Linked DNA regions of Homo sapiens: region 2 is linked to region 1. Evidence: fine-mapped expression QTL. A gene starts in region 1. The other region holds a variant in brackets. All regions are shown on one strand. Distances are between the middles of the regions.

What was found. PIP is the estimated chance that this variant, and not a neighbour inherited with it, causes the effect.
Region 2: its variant is the best candidate, but not a certain one, in a credible set for the expression of RTF1 in whole blood (TOPMed, PIP 0.78).

Annotation. Positions count from the first base shown.
Region 1 is chr15:41,413,752-41,422,085 of GRCh38, reverse strand. RTF1 (RTF1 homolog, Paf1/RNA polymerase II complex component) reads right to left here and starts at 4,991. Exons shown (of 18, transcript NM_015138.5): 1 at 4,773-4,991. The coding sequence starts at 4,970. RefSeq lists a silencer at 4,512-5,101 and an enhancer at 5,162-5,261.
Region 2 is chr15:41,586,776-41,595,109 of GRCh38, reverse strand. No RefSeq gene overlaps it. Among named protein-coding and RNA genes, the nearest start is that of TYRO3, 32 kb to the right of the region's middle. The variant G/A (reference allele first, on the strand shown) is at 3,730.

The DNA.
Region 1 (8,334 bases):
TCCAGTCTGGGCGATAGAGTGAGACTCCATCTCAAAAATAAATAAATAAACAAACAAACAAATAAATAAATAAGGCCTGGTGTGGCAGCTCACACCTGTAATTCCAGCACTTTGGGAGGCCAAAGCCTGAGAATCACCCAAGCCCAGGAGTTTCAGACTAGCCTAGGCAATGTAGTGGGACCCCCATCTCTACAAATGATTTTAAAAATTAGCTGGGTGTGGTGGTGCACACCTGTAGTCCCAGCTACTTGAGAGGCTGAGGGGGAAGGATCACTGAGCTAGGGAGGTCAACGCTACAGCCGTGAGCTGTAATTGTGCCACTGCACTCCAGCCTGGGTGACAGGAGTGAAACCCTGCCTAAAAAAAAAAAAAAAAAGAACCAGTAGTTTTGCCATCTTAAAACCTCCCTGTCAAGTTCTTTTAGTTATACAAGTGCCTTTTTTTTTTTTTTCTTTGGGACAGGGTCTCACTCTGTTACCTGGGCTGAAGAGAAACGGTGGGACCACAAGTAACTGCAACTTCAACCTCCCAGGCTCAAGCAATCCTCCCACCCCAGACTCCCAAGTAGCTGAGACTAGAGGCACGCCACCATGCCCAGCTAATTTTTAAATTCTTTTTTTTTTTTTTTTAATACAGAGTTTCACTCTTGTTTCCCAGGCTGGAGTGCAATGGCACGATCTCGGCTCACCACAGCCTCCACCTCCTGGGTTCAAGTGATTCTCCTGCCTCAGCCTTCTGAGTAACTGGGATTACAGGCAAGCACCACCATGCCTGGCTAATTTTGTATTTTTAGTAGAGACGAGGTTTCTCCATGTTGGTCAGGCTGGTCTCAAACTCCCAACCTCAGGTGATCCGCCCACCTCGGCCTCCCAAAGTGCTGGGATTACAGGTATGAGCCACTGCACCTGGCCAATTTTTAAAGTCTTTGTACAGATGAGGTCTCACTTTGTTGCCTACGCTGATCTCAAACACCTGGGCTCAAGTGTTCCTCCCACTTTGGCCTCCCAAAGTGCTGAGATTACAGGGCATGAGCCACCATGCCCAGCCTATACATGTACGCTTAATTTGGAAGTACTATGGCAGACACAGGAAGCTATTTCTCTTCTAAATACTTATAGTGTGTTACTAAAAAGATTAACCTGCATATAGGCAGTGATCTTAATCACTAACATAAATCATAATTACTTGAGCTATACCTGTTACAAATGCAGAGTCCAGACCTCTATCCCCTGAGAGTCTGATTCAGTAGGTCTAGGATGGGAACTGCTGCACCCTCTAAGTCCCAACCTACATTTTAAATAAGCAACCCAGGTGGCTTCTGACACAGAGGTCTGCCCCTACCACCAGGAAAAACCAGCCTAGAAGGCCCATATATCTCACCTTCAGTAAGGAATAAATTGGAGGTAAAATTTTTGACATAATGGCTCAGATTCCCATCTGAAAAACCCAGGGACAAAAGGCCTCCTTACGAACTGCATTCCAATCCACACTAGATACTCAGTGATCTGTCATGGTTTGTTCCTTCCACAAGTACCATACGCTAGACAGCAAGTCTAATGTTATACCCCCAGTGAAGACTCAGAACCAGATGGAGCAGCACAAGGTATTTGGGGCAGGAAAGATCCAGAATGCATTAGGATTCCTAAAGACCCCCAAGCAGCACTGACAGTGAACTTGTGCTAAAGGTCTTTCGTGAAAATGTCTAGAGGGCAGAGATCTTCCTCTTTGATTATTCTGAGAGTCTGGCATAGTGCTGAACAGACAAACTGAAGGCATCAATACCCCTGTTAGGATGTGCAGGGAAAGGGAATTTTGATCTAGTTCCCATCTGATAACAAGAATGCAAATAAGAAGCTGAAGGGGAGGAAGTTAAATTTGTTGTTAAAATGTATTAGGTATTACACATTTTATGTTAATTTCCTTTTACAAATAGATATTTAGAATTGGATTTAAAATTGCAATTCCGGCCAAGCACGGTGGCTCATGCCTGTAATCCCAGCACTTTGGGAGGCCGAGGTGGGCATATCACTTGAGGTCAGGAGTTCGAAACCAGCCTGGCCAACATGGAGAAACCCTGTCTCCACTAAAAATACAAAAAATTAGCCAGGTGTGGTGACAGGCACCTGTAGTCCCAGCTACACGGGAGGCTGAAGCAGGAGAATCGCTTGAACCCAGTGGGCGGAGGTTGCAGTGAGTTGAGATTGTGCCACTGAACTCCAGCCCAGGCAACAGAACAAGACTCCGTCTCAAAAATAAATAAATAAATAAAGTGGCAATTCTCTGCAGTTCCCACTTTGAAAAAGCTTTTTGTGGATCAGGTGAAATATCTCTACCACGAAAAGAAGCACTCAACTTATTTTATTCATCAGAATTCTGTGGGAAACTACTAAGGACAATAATTTGCAGTTCAGTTCATTCATCACTTGAACAGATGTCTTGAGAGTGCTTTACCAAGAAATCCCCCCAAATAATCCTTTTAATGTATGTACCAATTTCCTCTAAACTATCCAGTGTACTTTATAAACACGAACTCTAGCACCATGAAAAATGACTGTGAAACATTATCATTTTGCAGTATGAAAAAAATTTAAAACTAACAGATTGAGTTGGTATAGTGGAAACAGTATAGGCTTTGTACTCATGCAGATCTGGGTTCAAATCCCAATGCTACCACTTACTAGTTGTGAGTTATTTAACTTTTTCAACCTCCATTTTCTTTATGTAAAGTAGAGGAAATAATTCCAAATTTACCATAATGTGAAAACTTGAAAATCTAAACAAAACAATTAAAGTGCCTACTCTAGGCACTATATAAATGGTAGCCAATGTTGTTATTGTCTGAAACATTCACATTTGTAGATGAAAAGACAGAAAAAAATAGATTCTACTCCTTCTAATTGCCAGTCTAAAATTATCTACCAATCAAACTTTTACAGTCGAAATTATACTTTTGATATTTTTGTAAACTTCAGGAGCCTTTCAATGAGAACATTTTCAATTCCTACCCCAAAACAAAGTTTCTATTCCTTAGATAGTCTTACACAGGCCCCATTACTTCTCCATCTCCCTACCACCATTTTCAAAGCAGTCTTCTTTCTACAGCACCTCCTCAATCCTTTTCTTCTTAAAAGTCCTCCCCTTGGCGGAGCTTGCAGTGAAGCCAAGATCGCACCACTGCACTCCAGCCTGGGCGACAGTGCGAGACTCCGTCTCAAAAAAAAATAAATAAATAAATAAAAAGTCCTCCCCTTTTATGCCTTAATACTTTCTTTTTCTTTCTTTTCTTTTTTTTTTTTTTTTTGTGATGGAGTTTCGCTCTTGTTGCCCAGGCTCACTGCAACCTCCGCCTCCCGGGTTCAAGAATTCTCCTGCCTCAGCCTCCCGAGTAGCTGGGATTACAGGCATGTGCCACCACGCCCCGCTAATTTTGTATTTTTAGTAGAGATGGGGTTTCTCCATGTTGGTCAGGCTGGTCTCGAACTCCCGACCTCAGATGAGCCTTGGCCTCCCAAAGTGCTGGGACTACAGGCGTGAGCCACCGCGCCCAGCCCCTAATACTTTCAAACTGAGACCTCTGGCTTCATATAAAAGACCCCCAAGAAGCCATTCATAGAAAAACTTTACAATTAGCAAATGCTTGCACTGCCATCAATTTTTACAAACACTTGATCTTTACAATAAACCAATTAGATACACAAGGCTGATGTTACATTTTCATTTTACATTTAAGACCAAAGATATATAGCTAGAAAATAGCATAAGCCCAGCCTAGAATTCAAATTTTCAGACTCCAAGTTCAATACTCTTTCTACTCAAAAGCTACTATCTCTTGCATATTCTTTCTTTACATCATTTGCTCATTAAACAGAAAGGAGACCATCTTTGTATCGCCTGGTATCACTAGAGCACTGCTACAAAGAGCAGATTCCTCCCTACAATGTTTTCTAGAGTATATAAACAGTTCAACCCCAAGACACTGAGGCCAAAAGTTACTTTCAGTGCTTCCTGCAGTCTTCAAGTAAGAAAGAATTCTGGGATGCTGCGTGAAAGGGCCAAGAGGAGGCCTGGGCTATGCACAGTCCCTCCATGTCGCCCTACATAGTTCTCTATTTCTTCCAGTATCTGCCCTCTTTCCTCCACCCAAGAGTGTTTTTTTGGGTCTGACACCTCAACAAGGGCCCTTCTCAAACACAAACGACCCTAGTCGCCAAATAAACTCGTGCCCACAGCTAAGTCATCCTTGGCAAGCATGGCAGAGGCTCCTAGGAACATTTACGAGTGTCCTTCCTCTGTCCACATCCCTTGTCCGAAAAACTTCCATCTTCCAGAGTCCGGATCTTCTTGGCCCTCGCCCCCAACTGCTCGACGCGCACCCTTGCACCTCCTCCAAAACCTCCCAGCCTCCCAGGTTGGCGGGCGATACTTCCTATCTCTCCCAGCCCGGATCTCCTGGACTACAGCCCGCCGCCCCGATCTGGCCCCGGAAGATCGCGGCCCCTTTCGCTACCCCCGAGCCCGAGGCCCAACGGCCCGGTCCCTGCCCCGCCTCCCCGCCCAAGGCGCCAAGTCCTCGGGGCTCCGTCTCCAGGCCCGGGCCGGTCTCCAAGGCCCCGCACACTCCAGGAAGACGGGAAAGGGGCTGTAGTGGTGCCCAGGGCACGGGGCGAGCTGGGCGCTCTGGTAGGAAGGCTCCAGGCCCGGCCGTCTCCGGCTCCCGCGGCCCCGACAGCCCTCTGGCTCCGCCGGCCCGCGCCTCCGCGGCCTGCCCTCACCTGATCCAGGTTCTCGTCGCTGCCGCTGTCCTCTGTGTCCGAGTCGATCACGACGCGGCCTTTCCGCTTCTTTACCATGGTGGTCCCCCGGCTCCCACGCCGGCCGCCGCCCGGACTCCCCTCTTGCCCGCCTGCCAGTGGGACCGCCACTGCCGCCGCCGCCGCCGCTGCTCGACCCACACAAAGGCGACCGCGCATGCGCGCTCCGCTCCGCCCCCCTGGCCCCGCCCCCTGCTCGCCGCACGCCGTTCGCAGGTCGCCGGGTGCCCCGCCCTGCCCCGCCCCCGACGCAGCGTGAGAGGCGGGGCCTTCCCCCGTCGCTGGTTCCCGGCAGAGAGTGGTGGTGGCTTTACCCGCGACTGCCCTGGAGTCCTTGGCTGTATCTCTGCTGCGGAGCCGAAGTTTGGTGGGCTCTCTTCCTATCGGGGGCTGGAGCCGCAAGGATCCAGGTTCTCTCTGAGGGGGCTCACGTGTCTACCTACTTTCAAGCTGTCCAACACTGATGGCGTGTACTTAAGGGGCCGACGGCCTGGAAGACATAAGTCGCCTGGACCACGCGGTGGACACCGGTTGGGGGCTGGAGACTGCCGACCCGGGCTGTGCGAATGACAGCTGAGCTGGGACCTGGAGAATGCATCTGAATTACCCAAAAGGAGAGTAGAGTGTTGCATGCAGAGAACAGCGTAGGCAAAATGGCCCGGCGATAATAAAGTTAGGTTCGGAGAACTGAAGTTAGTTATGGCCAGAGCAGAGATTGTGGGTGGGGATAGGCGACAGACCAGGCTGGAGAAGGACACGGCGACTGCCTCACTCAGATCCTAATAAGTAAGCTGAATTAGGGAGTTTGAACTTGAGTATTGAAAGATTTTAAACTGAAGAACCACATGATTTGATTTGTGTGTGGTTTTGTGTTTTAGTAGAGACGGGGCCTCCCTATATTGCCCAGGCTGGTCTCGAACCCCTGGGCCCAAGGGATCCTCCTGCCTTGGCCTCCCAAAGTGCTGGGATTACAGGCGTGAGCTACCGTGCCCAGCCTGATTTGTGGTGGTGTTTTTTTGTTTGTTTGTTTGTTTGTTCGTTTGTTTTGGAGACGGAGTCGCTCTTGTTGCCCGGCCTGGAGTGCAGTGGCAGCTCACTGCAACTCCGCTTCCCAGGTTCAAGCGATTCTCCTGCCTCAGCCTCCTGAGTAGCTGGGATTACAGGCTCCTGCCACCACGCCCGGCTAATTTTTTTTTTTTTTTTTTTTTTGAGACGGAGTTTCGTTCTTGTCGCCCAGGCTGGAGTGCAATGGCGCGATCTTGGCTCACTGCAACTTCTGCCGCCTGGGTTCAAGCGATTCTCCAGCCTCAACCTCCGGAATAGATGGCATTACAGACGCCCTTCACCACGCCCTGCTAATTTTTGTATTTTCAGTAGAGATGGGGTTTCAGCATGTTGGCCAGGCTGGTCTCAAACTCCTGGCCTCCGGTGATCCGCCCGCCTCAGCCTCCCAAAGTGCTGGGATTATAGGCATGAGCCACTGCACCCAGGCCTGATTTGTGTTTTTCAAAGATTACTCTGACCGCAGTATGGCGAATGGACTAAGGGCAGGGAGATCGCTTGGATTGTTGTTGTCTTCTTGGCAAGAGATGATGGTGTCCTGACCTAAGGACGAAGCTGTGGGAATGGAAAGAAGTGGATGGACTCTGGATAATTTGGAACGTAGAATCCCCAGGATTTGGGATAGGGGTAAGGGAAGGAGTGCTCCCAGATACCTATTGATGTTCAGATTCTAGCTTAGGAAGCTAGTGGCAGGTGAGCCCTTCATCAAAAAAATGAAATACAAGAGGAGAGAAGAAGGTTTTGGGAACTGGTGTGTATAGGAAATAAGTTTTTATACTTAAGTTTGAGGTCAGCTGATAAAAAGGTCAGCTCCAGAAGTTATTTCCTTTAGTGATTAGGAATATAAAGTAGGGGCCGGGCGTGGTGGCTCACACATGTAATCCCAGCACTTTGGGAAGCTGAAGAGGGCCGATCACCTGAGGGCAGGAGTTCAAGACCTGCCTGGCCAACATGGCAAAACCCCATCTCTACTAAAAATACAAAAATTAGGCCGGGCACAGTGGCTCACGCCTGTAATCCCAACTTTGGGAGGCTGAGGCAGGGGGATCACAAGGTCAGGAAATCGAGACCAGCCTGACCAACATGGTAAAACCCTGTCTCTACTAAAAATACAAAAATTAGCCGGGCATAGTGGCGTGTTCCTGTAATCCCAGCTACTTGGGAGGCTGAGGCAGGAGAATCACTTGAACCTGAAGGCGGAGGCTGCAGTGAGACGAAATCGTACCACTGCACTCCAGCCTGGCAACAGACGTGACTCTTTCTCAAAAATAATAATAATAATAATAATAATAATCTGGACCGGGTGCAGTGGCTCTTTCCTGTAACCCCAGCACTTTGGGAGGCTGAGGCAGGTGGATCACGAGGTCAGGAGCTCAAGACCAACTTGGCCAAGACAGTGAAACCCCGTTTCTACTAAAAATACAAAAATTAGTCAGACGTGGTGGTGGGCGCATGTATTCCCAGCTACTTGGGAGGCTGAGGCAGAGAATTGCTTGAACCTGGGAGGTGGAGGTTGCAGTGAGCTGAGATCGCGCCACTGCACTCCAGCCTGGGCAACAATAGCGAGCCTGTTCTCAAAAAAAAAAAAAGGAAAAAAGAAAATAATCGCACCACTGCACTTCAGCCTGGGTGACAAAGTGAGACCCTGTCTCAAAAAAATAAATAAATAAAACAACCTAAATAAAGTCCAACTACCTCTTTACCCTAGAAGAGTTTTCCTAAGATACAGCTCATAGACTTTTCTCCCCCGACATATCCTTGGAACCATGGCCAAGGTGACCCCGAATCACCAGCCCAGCTTCCGTATGTCTAGCCACCCTGAAGCCTGTGGTGCCCTTCTGGAGGACCCTCTTTAAATGTGTTAATACACAGTACTGCTAAAAAGGAAGCCATGACATGGTCAGTGGCCCTTGACTGGAATTAATAAAAGTATGTTCTTTGAGTGAAATCTGTAGATTTTGATCTTTCTGCAAGGGGTCTTCTAATGATTCACGTACTGAAGTTAGTCCGTATTGAGTCTAATCAATGTCTAAATTTAGTGAATAAACGTTGCTTTAAACTCCCTCTTGAGTCAGCTTCCCAGAGAACCCAACCAGTCAAAGTTTCCAATTAGTAAAATGAGGATAATGATAGTGTCTGTCTCTTTGGGTTCTTATAAGGTTTAAGTTTACAAAGCAGGCATGGAGGCACAGGTCTATGGTCCCAGTTACTTGGGAGGCTAAGGTAGGAGGATCGGTTGAGCCCAGGAGGTGGAATCCATCCTTGGCAACTTAGAGAAACCACGTCTCAAAAAAAATAGTAAGTTAGGCCAAGCCGAGTGTGGTGGCTCACGCCTGTAATCCCAGCACTTTGGGAGGCCGAGGCAGGCGGATTACCTGAGGTCAGGAGTTCAAGACCAGCCTGGCCGACATGGTGAAATCCCATCTCTACTAAAAATACAAAAAAAAAAAAATTAGCTGTG
Region 2 (8,334 bases), 170 kb before region 1:
CTGGGATTACAGGCATGAGCCACCTCACCAGGCCTATTCCTTTACTTTCTTAATAAACTTGCTTTCACTTTACTAAGGACTCACCCTGAATTCTTTCCTGGGCAAGCTCCAAGAACCCTCTCTTGGGGTCTAGATTTGGACTCCTTTCTGGTAACAAAGCCATTGTTATGAGGATTACATACGTTAATATTTAGAAAGCAATCAGAAAAACAAAATAGGCTGGGCATGGAGGATCACACCTGTAATCCCAGCACTTTGGGAGGCCGGGGCTGGTGGATGGCCTGAGACCAGGAGTTCAAGACCAGCCTGGGCAACGTGGCAAAACCCTGCCTCTACAAAAAATACAAAAACTTAGCTGGACATGGTGGCACATGCCTGTGGTCCCAGCTACTTGGGAAGCTGAGGTGGGAGGATCGCTTGAGCCCGGAGGCAGAGGTTGCAGTGAGATGTGATCATCCCACTACACTCCAACCTGGGTGACAGAATGAGACCCCATCTCAAACAAACAAACAAAAAAAGATGAGTATGTTTATTAAATAAGTTAAACAAAACATATAGCTTCGGGATTAAAAATAATAAAATGGGCTGGGCACGGTGGCTTACACCTGTAATCCCAGCTCTTTGGGAGACTGAGGTGGGCAGATCACAAGGTCAAGTGATCAAGACCATCCTGGCCAACATGGAGAAACCCCGTCTCTATTAAAAATACAAAAAATTAGCTGGGCGTGGTGGCGCGTGCCTATAGTCCCAACTACTCAGGAGGCTGAGGCAGGAGGATCGCTTGAACCCGGTAGGCGGAGGTTTCAGTGAGCCAAGATCGCGCCACTGCACTCCAGCCTGGCAACAGAGCTAGACTCCATCTCAATAATAATAATAATAAAATGTTCAAAGGTATAAGGAAAGCATCTGGTATGTTGTATATGCTTGAACAGAGTCTTAGGAACAATTATGTTACTGAAACCACCTTTGCAAAATTATGACTGAGACAGTGAAAGAGATCTAACTTAACTGACTTCATTTTGCTTTTAACCTCCAAGCTGTCCTTGTCCATTCCTGGGCATAGGCTGAACTAACTTTGGGAGAAGTTTAGTTTGTAGTTTATGGTTTAAACAAAGACGGTAACAGCCCTTTCCCAAAGCAGACCTCCTTCTTGCCTGGGGACTAGACTGCCTTTGTAGGACTAACATTAGTCACAAGATTAGAAATTATGGTTTAGGAGTCATGCAGCTGGAGGCTACAGGATTCTGACCCTCCCTAAACTGCTCCTAAGGTCACTGCTTGAGATATTTTGCAGACCCTGCACTTCATGGATCAGCTGGTCCCACTCAGATCAAAAACTGGCTCATCTGATCTTGTGGCCCCCACCCAGGAACTGACTGAGCTCAAGAAGACAGATCCAATTCCATATCATTTCACCTCTGACCAATCAGCACTCCTGGATCACTGGCTTCCCCCCACCGACCAAGTTATCCTTAAAAACTCTGCTCCCCCAATGCTGGGGAGACTGATTTGAGTAATAATAAAACTCCGGTCTCCCTCACAGCCAGCTCTGCGTGAATTACTCCTTATCCATTGCAATTCCTCTGTGTTGTAGCACTCGAATATAAAATTTTCTGTTTTTTAATTCTCAGCAAGGCAAGGTACTTCTATAGAAGGGTGCGCTCTCACCGATGGAGCAATGGTGGGCGCACATTTGGACAAGGGAGAAGAAGGGGTTCTTTTTTTTTTTTTTTTTTTTTTTTTTTTGAGACAGAGTTTCTGTCTGTCGCCCAGGCTGCTGGAGTGCAATGGCCAATCTGGGCTCACTGCTGCAAGCTCCGCCTCCCGGGTTCACGCCATTCTCCTGCCTCAGCCTCCCGAGTAGCTGGGACTACAGGCGCCCACCACCATGCCCGGCTAATTTTTTGTATTTTTAATAGAGACAGGGTTTCACCATGTTAGCCAGAATAGTCTCAATCTCCTGACCTCCTGATCCGCCTGCCTCTGCCTCCCAAAGCGCTGGGATTACACGCACATGGCCCCTGCTGCTGGGTCATTCCCCTATTGGCTAGTGTTAGACCGCACAGGCTAAACTAATTCCGATTGGCTAATTTAAAGAGAATGATGGGGTGAGCGCTTTGTAGCAGGTAACCGGAATGAGTTAGGGTGGAGCAGGTGATCAGAATGATTCAGGGTGGAGGTGATCAGAATGAGTTAGAGTGGAGTAGGTGATCAGAATGAGTCAGGGTGGAGTAGGTAATCGGGATGAGTCAGGGTAGAGTAGGTAATCACAAAAGGTTGCTTTACGAGGAAGTTAAGTTTAAAAGTAGAAGGCAAAGAATTGAACATACTGACATATTAATTCTTTGAAGAGAAATTTAGAATTCATATTCAACAACTTCCTCCTCTTGCAATTTTTTATGGCTTTCTCTTCAAACTTATTTAACATGTCTTGACTTAGTTGTTCTGCTTGATTTTCCAAAAGAAGCAGCTTCTCTGGATAAGGTGGAGGATAGTTAAGGGAGGTTTTAGTAAGTGCCATTTCTATGAGCCCCTGCACCAACCCAGGATGCATGGTATAACACAGCACCCGACAAGAATAAGTACACCTATTACAGCTACGAGGGAGGAAAGAATTGAGGCTATTATTCCTTTCCATTTACCAAACCACTTCTCTAGCCATCCCGTAAAGGGGTCATTTGCCCCTGAGTTGCTGGCTAACTCATTGGATAGAGCAGTCAGACCTTGCAATGCCTTTGTTATACTTCCATCAGGGGCGGTGTTGTTTGGGATGAAGGTGCAACATCGAGTTTTAATCATGACGCAAACTCCTCCTCTTTTTGCTAATATCATGTCTAAGGCTATCCTATTTTCCTAAGCCATCTGGCTAGTAGCCCCTAATTGCTCAGCTATTCCTTTAACAGCATCTCTAGTGTAGTTAATAAATCCCTGTTGGTTGTAATAGACGTAGTTTATCCAATCTACATTTTTGTTAACTGTCACTCACCAAAATATTGACTCAAATCCTGCAGCTATTTGATTTTGGGCCTTAAATTGATCTGGTATTCCCCATGGGACTCCAACTGTGTCTAAATAGATGTGAGAGTCGAAAGCATAAGGGGCTTCTCTCACTTTACAATGTCTTATTTTTTCTTCCTCTTATTGATGAAATGCCAGGGTAAAAGGGATAGCCAATTGGACTAAAGCACAAGTGCCACTCTAGTTATTCAGTAGAGTGTCCAGTAAAGGTCCACCACAATACCACCACACATCCACTCGGGGATGAACAAGGGCTGACTGATTGGTAAGCTCTTGAAAGTTCTTAAGCTCACTGCATCCCTTCAGGTCTCCAAGGAACGCTAAGTTTCCTCCCTGTCGTGAGAGACACGAAGTGAACTTAGTGTTGGGAGACCGAAGCTGGATGGCCCTCAGGGGCTGACCCACAGGGTGTGGAACTTCAGGATACAGCAGAGAGAGAGCTTGGCATGACTTGTTACCCCAGGCTGTAAAATCCTGGAAAAGAGCTACCATGCAGCCCATGCCCAGTCTGCTGGAGTACCACCCTAGTGGAAAGGGGACAATCTGCACCTCTGGCCTGCCACACGCACAAGCATAACAATTGCTTTTGTTTAACGTGCAGATGGAATATTTGATCCATTCCAACCAGGCATTTACATCTTGGTATCCTGTCTCGATTGCTAAAGTTTGTTTTAAGTCTTTAACTTCTACCATCGCTATCTTGGCCTTGTC[G/A]TTAGATGGAGGAGGAACAATGGTTCCATTGTAAGAGGTTTTAGAAAAAGCTTTAGAAGCAGGTTCAGGTGGTGGGGGATCAAAGAAACACATTTCAAAGAATCCAATAGGTCTGTCCCTGAAACCTCAGCTCCCATACCATAAAACCGGCTGAAAGAAGGGAACTGGCTTAGAAAAAGGGGAGAACTTTGGGGGCTCAAAATAATAACCTGTATAGGGTTGCACTGGTTTAGCTGACAGTTAGGGGGGGCTGTCCCTTTAGTAAAATGAATGTATGGTTTTAGGAAATTATAAAAACTGGTTGGGGCACTCCATCCTTGCTCTTTGGTGGTTCACAGAACATCGGACCAACTACGGCATAAAAGCTCTACATCAGTGGGGCAAGACTCCTGGTTGCCACTGGGGTCTTTATTGAAATCTCCCCGGATTAAATGGTCCCAATTCACTAATGCCCAGTCTGAGGAGAGCCAGGAGGGACAGAGGTACTTTTCTGAAGTAGAGAGCTGTCTTTGACTTAGCAAATCCCTACAGAGTATAACACGGCAAGCATCAAATGCAATAGTTTGAGGTGAACTTGACTTGGTTACGTTAATAACTAGATGGTCAGCAATAGAGCGAGGAAAGAAGAAAAAGTAATAGAATAGATGAAAGAGAGTTAAATTCTTCTTAGCTTTAGTTTGGTAGGGTTTTCCCCTAGGACTATGGCCCATGACTCTGGAGTCCATCCTCTCTCTGCGGTGTGGACTGCGGTTTCAGTCGCGAGGAGCACTAAGTAAGGACCTTCCCAGGCTGGCTCAAGTTTTTCCTCTTTCCAGCTCTTAATGAGGACATGATCCCCAGGCTGATGTTGATGCACCGGGAACTCCAAGGGTGGCGCCTGTGCTAAAAAACCTTTAGTTTTAAGAGAAGAGAAAGTAGAAGATACATCAAGTATATAATTTGTAAGGAATTGATTGGGTCTTTTGTTTCAAAGGTAGGAATATCAGTAGTGGAGTGCAAATAAGGTAATCCATAGAGCATCTCATAAGGAGAAAGACCAATGTCTTTCCGTGGTGCAGTTCGAATTCTCAGCAGGGTATAGGAAGACACTTGGTCCACGGCAACCAAGTCTCTAAGACTGATTTGGTTAGGTGGTTCTTTTGCATCTGATTCATTCTTTCTACTCTCCCTGATGAGGGTGGGTGCCAGGGAATATTGTGTTCCCATCTAATGTCTAATGTTTGGGATAGCTTTTTAATAATGTGTGCGGTGAAATGAGTTCCATTGTCTGAGTCAATATTTTCTATTAGTCCAAACCTAGGTACTATATTTTCAATTAGGGCCTTAACTACATTATTGGCTGTCGCATTTGAAAAGGGATAGCTTCAACCCAGTGAGTGAGGTGGTCTACTACTACTAGTAAATATTTCAGACGACCTATTGGAGGCATTTCTGTGTAATCAACTTGGATACTTTGGAATGGCCTTAAGCCCGGATTCCTTCTCTTGAGAGGTAATCTTTTTATAGTATGTCTATTAGTTTTCTTACATACTAAGCAACTATCTGTAACCTGTTTGGCCAGGGTATAAATTCCTATACAACCATAAACCCTGAGAACTGCATCACACATGGCCTGAGGCCCCCAATGGGTCCCTTGATGTAGTTGGGATAAGACTTCCCTTATAAGGGGTTTAGACAACATTTCTCTCTGGTCTGGCAGTATCCACTTTCCTTCTGAATTCTCTTTAGCACCTATTTTTATTAGTTTCTCTCTTTCAGTGGAAGAAAAAATGGGGATTACAGTAGGAGGAGGCAGGTAGGGAGTTAAGTGAAAAATATGCATTTCAGAAGACACAGCAGCCTGCTTGGCTACCTGATCTGCTAGGTTATTTCCTCAACTTTCAAAAGAAAGGTTTTTCTGGTGTCCGGGAACACGGACAATAGCTATTTCTTCTGGCAACTGAAGATTATTCAATACTTGGGTGATCAGCTCCTTGTGAACAAGGTCTTGACCTTTACTACTAATGAGACCTCTTTCAGTCCAAATTTTCCCAAACATATGGGCCACTACACAGGCATACTTGGAATCTGTATAGATGGTTCCTTCCTGGTTCTGTAAGTACTTTAAGGCTTGGCTGAGTGCAAATAGCTCACATGTTTGAGCAGACCAATTGTTGGCAATTTTCCAGATTCTATTTCTATGAGAATTTCTCCATCAATCACTGAATACCCATTGTGTCTTTTTCCCTCAATCACCCCGGAGGAACTGTCTATGAATAAGTGCCGTCCAGTCCGGAAGGGGGTTTCTCCTAGGTCTGGTCGAACCTTTGTATGGTAATCAATTAAATCTAAACATGTGTGTTCCCTCCATAGATTTGGATTCCCTGTTAGGAAACCTGCTGGGTTGAGTGAATTATCAGAGGTCAATGTTAAATCATCCTTTTCTAACAGAACGGCCTCATACTTCAAGATTCTCGAGTCGGTAAGCCATCTCCCTGCTCTCTGGTTTAAGATAGTTCTAACTTGGTGAGGCGTGCTTACCGTCAATTTTCCTCCAAAGGTTAACTTCCTGCTTTCCTCGACCAGTATTGCCGCAGCCCCGATGGACTGGATGCATTGAGGCCATCCACAAGTGACTGGGTCCAACACCTTTGATAGGAAGGCTACGGGCTGCCGGCGGCCTCTGTGTTCTTGAGTCAGCACTCCTAAAACTACCGCACTGTCCACATTAACAAAAAGGTGGAATGGCTTTTCTAGGGAGGGTAAGGCAGTTATGAGCCTTTCCTTCAGCTTCTAGACTTGATCAGCTTCCTCAGAAGTCCACAGGAGATGGTTCGGCTTCTCCTGGGCAAGTTTTTAATATAACAGTTTACTGTGCAGTGCATGAGTCAATCCATAAGCGGCAGTATCTGACTAACCCTAAAAATTTCCTGAGTTCTTATTTAGTTTGAGGCAAGGGTAGGGACACCATTCCCTCGATTCATTCAGGCCCTATTCTTCGCTTGTCTGCACTTATTAAGTGGCCTAAATATTTAACTTCGGGCTCTACATACTGAAGCTTTCTTTTTGAGACTCATAGCCCCTCAAACTGCAGATAGCTAAGAATATGTGTAGAGAAGTCAGTTACCTTCTCTATATCTTCACCAGATATAAGAATGTCGTCTACGTACTGAAGAAGGCATATTTGTTCTAGTATGACAACTTTTTCTAGTACCTGTTCTAAAATTTGGCCAAAAAGATTAGGAGAGTCTATGAACCGTCGGAGCAAGACCGTCCATCTCGATATTGCTGTTTCCGCCCTGAGTGGCGATCCTCCCATTCAAAAGCAAATATATTTCGGCTATCTTCAGCCAGGGGACATGCCCAAAAAGCATCCTTCAAATCTATTATGGTAAACCATTGATGATTACATGGAATTTTGCTAAGAACCGTGTAAGCATTGGGGACAATGGGGTTGGTAGTCTGGACTATTTGGTTGATAGCTCTAAGGTCCTGTAGTAGCTGGTATGACCCATCTGATTTCTTGACTGGCAGTATTGGGGTGTTATAAGGGGACATACAGGGCTCGAGAAGCCCATCCTTAATAAGGTCTTTGATTATAGGTTTCAACCCTATCCTACCTTCTAGGGGAATAGGGATTGCTTCCTTCTTACTACTTCTCCTGGGGTTTTTAGCTTGATGTGGATCGGAGGGACTTGGAATTTCCCTCGGTTTCCTTTTTTGGACCAGACATTAGGATTAATATATTTTTCATCGGCAGTGGTGAGTAGATTTAATGAGGTGAGGAATCCTCTTGGGCTGACTTGTAGACCTATGCCCAACTTTAACATTAAATCCCTCCCCAGTAAATTAGTTCCTGCTTAGGGGATTAACAAGAACTGAATATAAGCTGAGCGATCAAAATTTATCAATTTATCAAAAAGGTTGTGATAAGTTGGTTCTGTCTAGGCAGGAGGCAAGGTGAACACCTTGGGCGGTTACATTACTGGAAAGGAGTCCCAGTCCAGATCCCAAGAGAGGGTTCCTGGATCTTGCAAAAGAGAATTCAGAGCGAGATCATAAAGTGAAAACAAGTTTATAAGGAAAGTAAAGGAATAAAAGAATGGCTACTCCATAGACAAAACAGCCCCAAGGGCTTCTGGTTGCCCATTTTTATGGTTAGTTCTTGATGATATGCTAAACACGGGGTGGATTATTCATGCCTCTCCTTTTTAGACCATATAGGGTAACTTCTGATGTTGCCATAGCATTTGTAAGCTGTCATGGTGCTGGTGGGAGTGTAGCAGTGAGGACGACCAGAGGTCACTCTCATCGCCATCTTGGTTTTGGTGGGTTTTAGCCGGTTTTTTTACTGCAACTTGTTTTATCAACAAGGTCTGGCCGGCGCAGTGGCTCATGCCTATAATCCCAGCACTTTGGGAGGCTGAGGCCGGAGGATCACCTGACGTCAGGGGTTCAAGACCAGCCTGGCCAACATGGTAAAACCCTGCCTCTACAAAAATACAAAAATTAGCCGGGCCTGATGGTGGATGCCTGTAATCCCAGCTACTCGGGAAGCTGAGGCGGGAGAATCTCTTGAACCCAGGAAGCAGAGGTTGCAGTGAGCCGAGATTGCGCCACTGCACT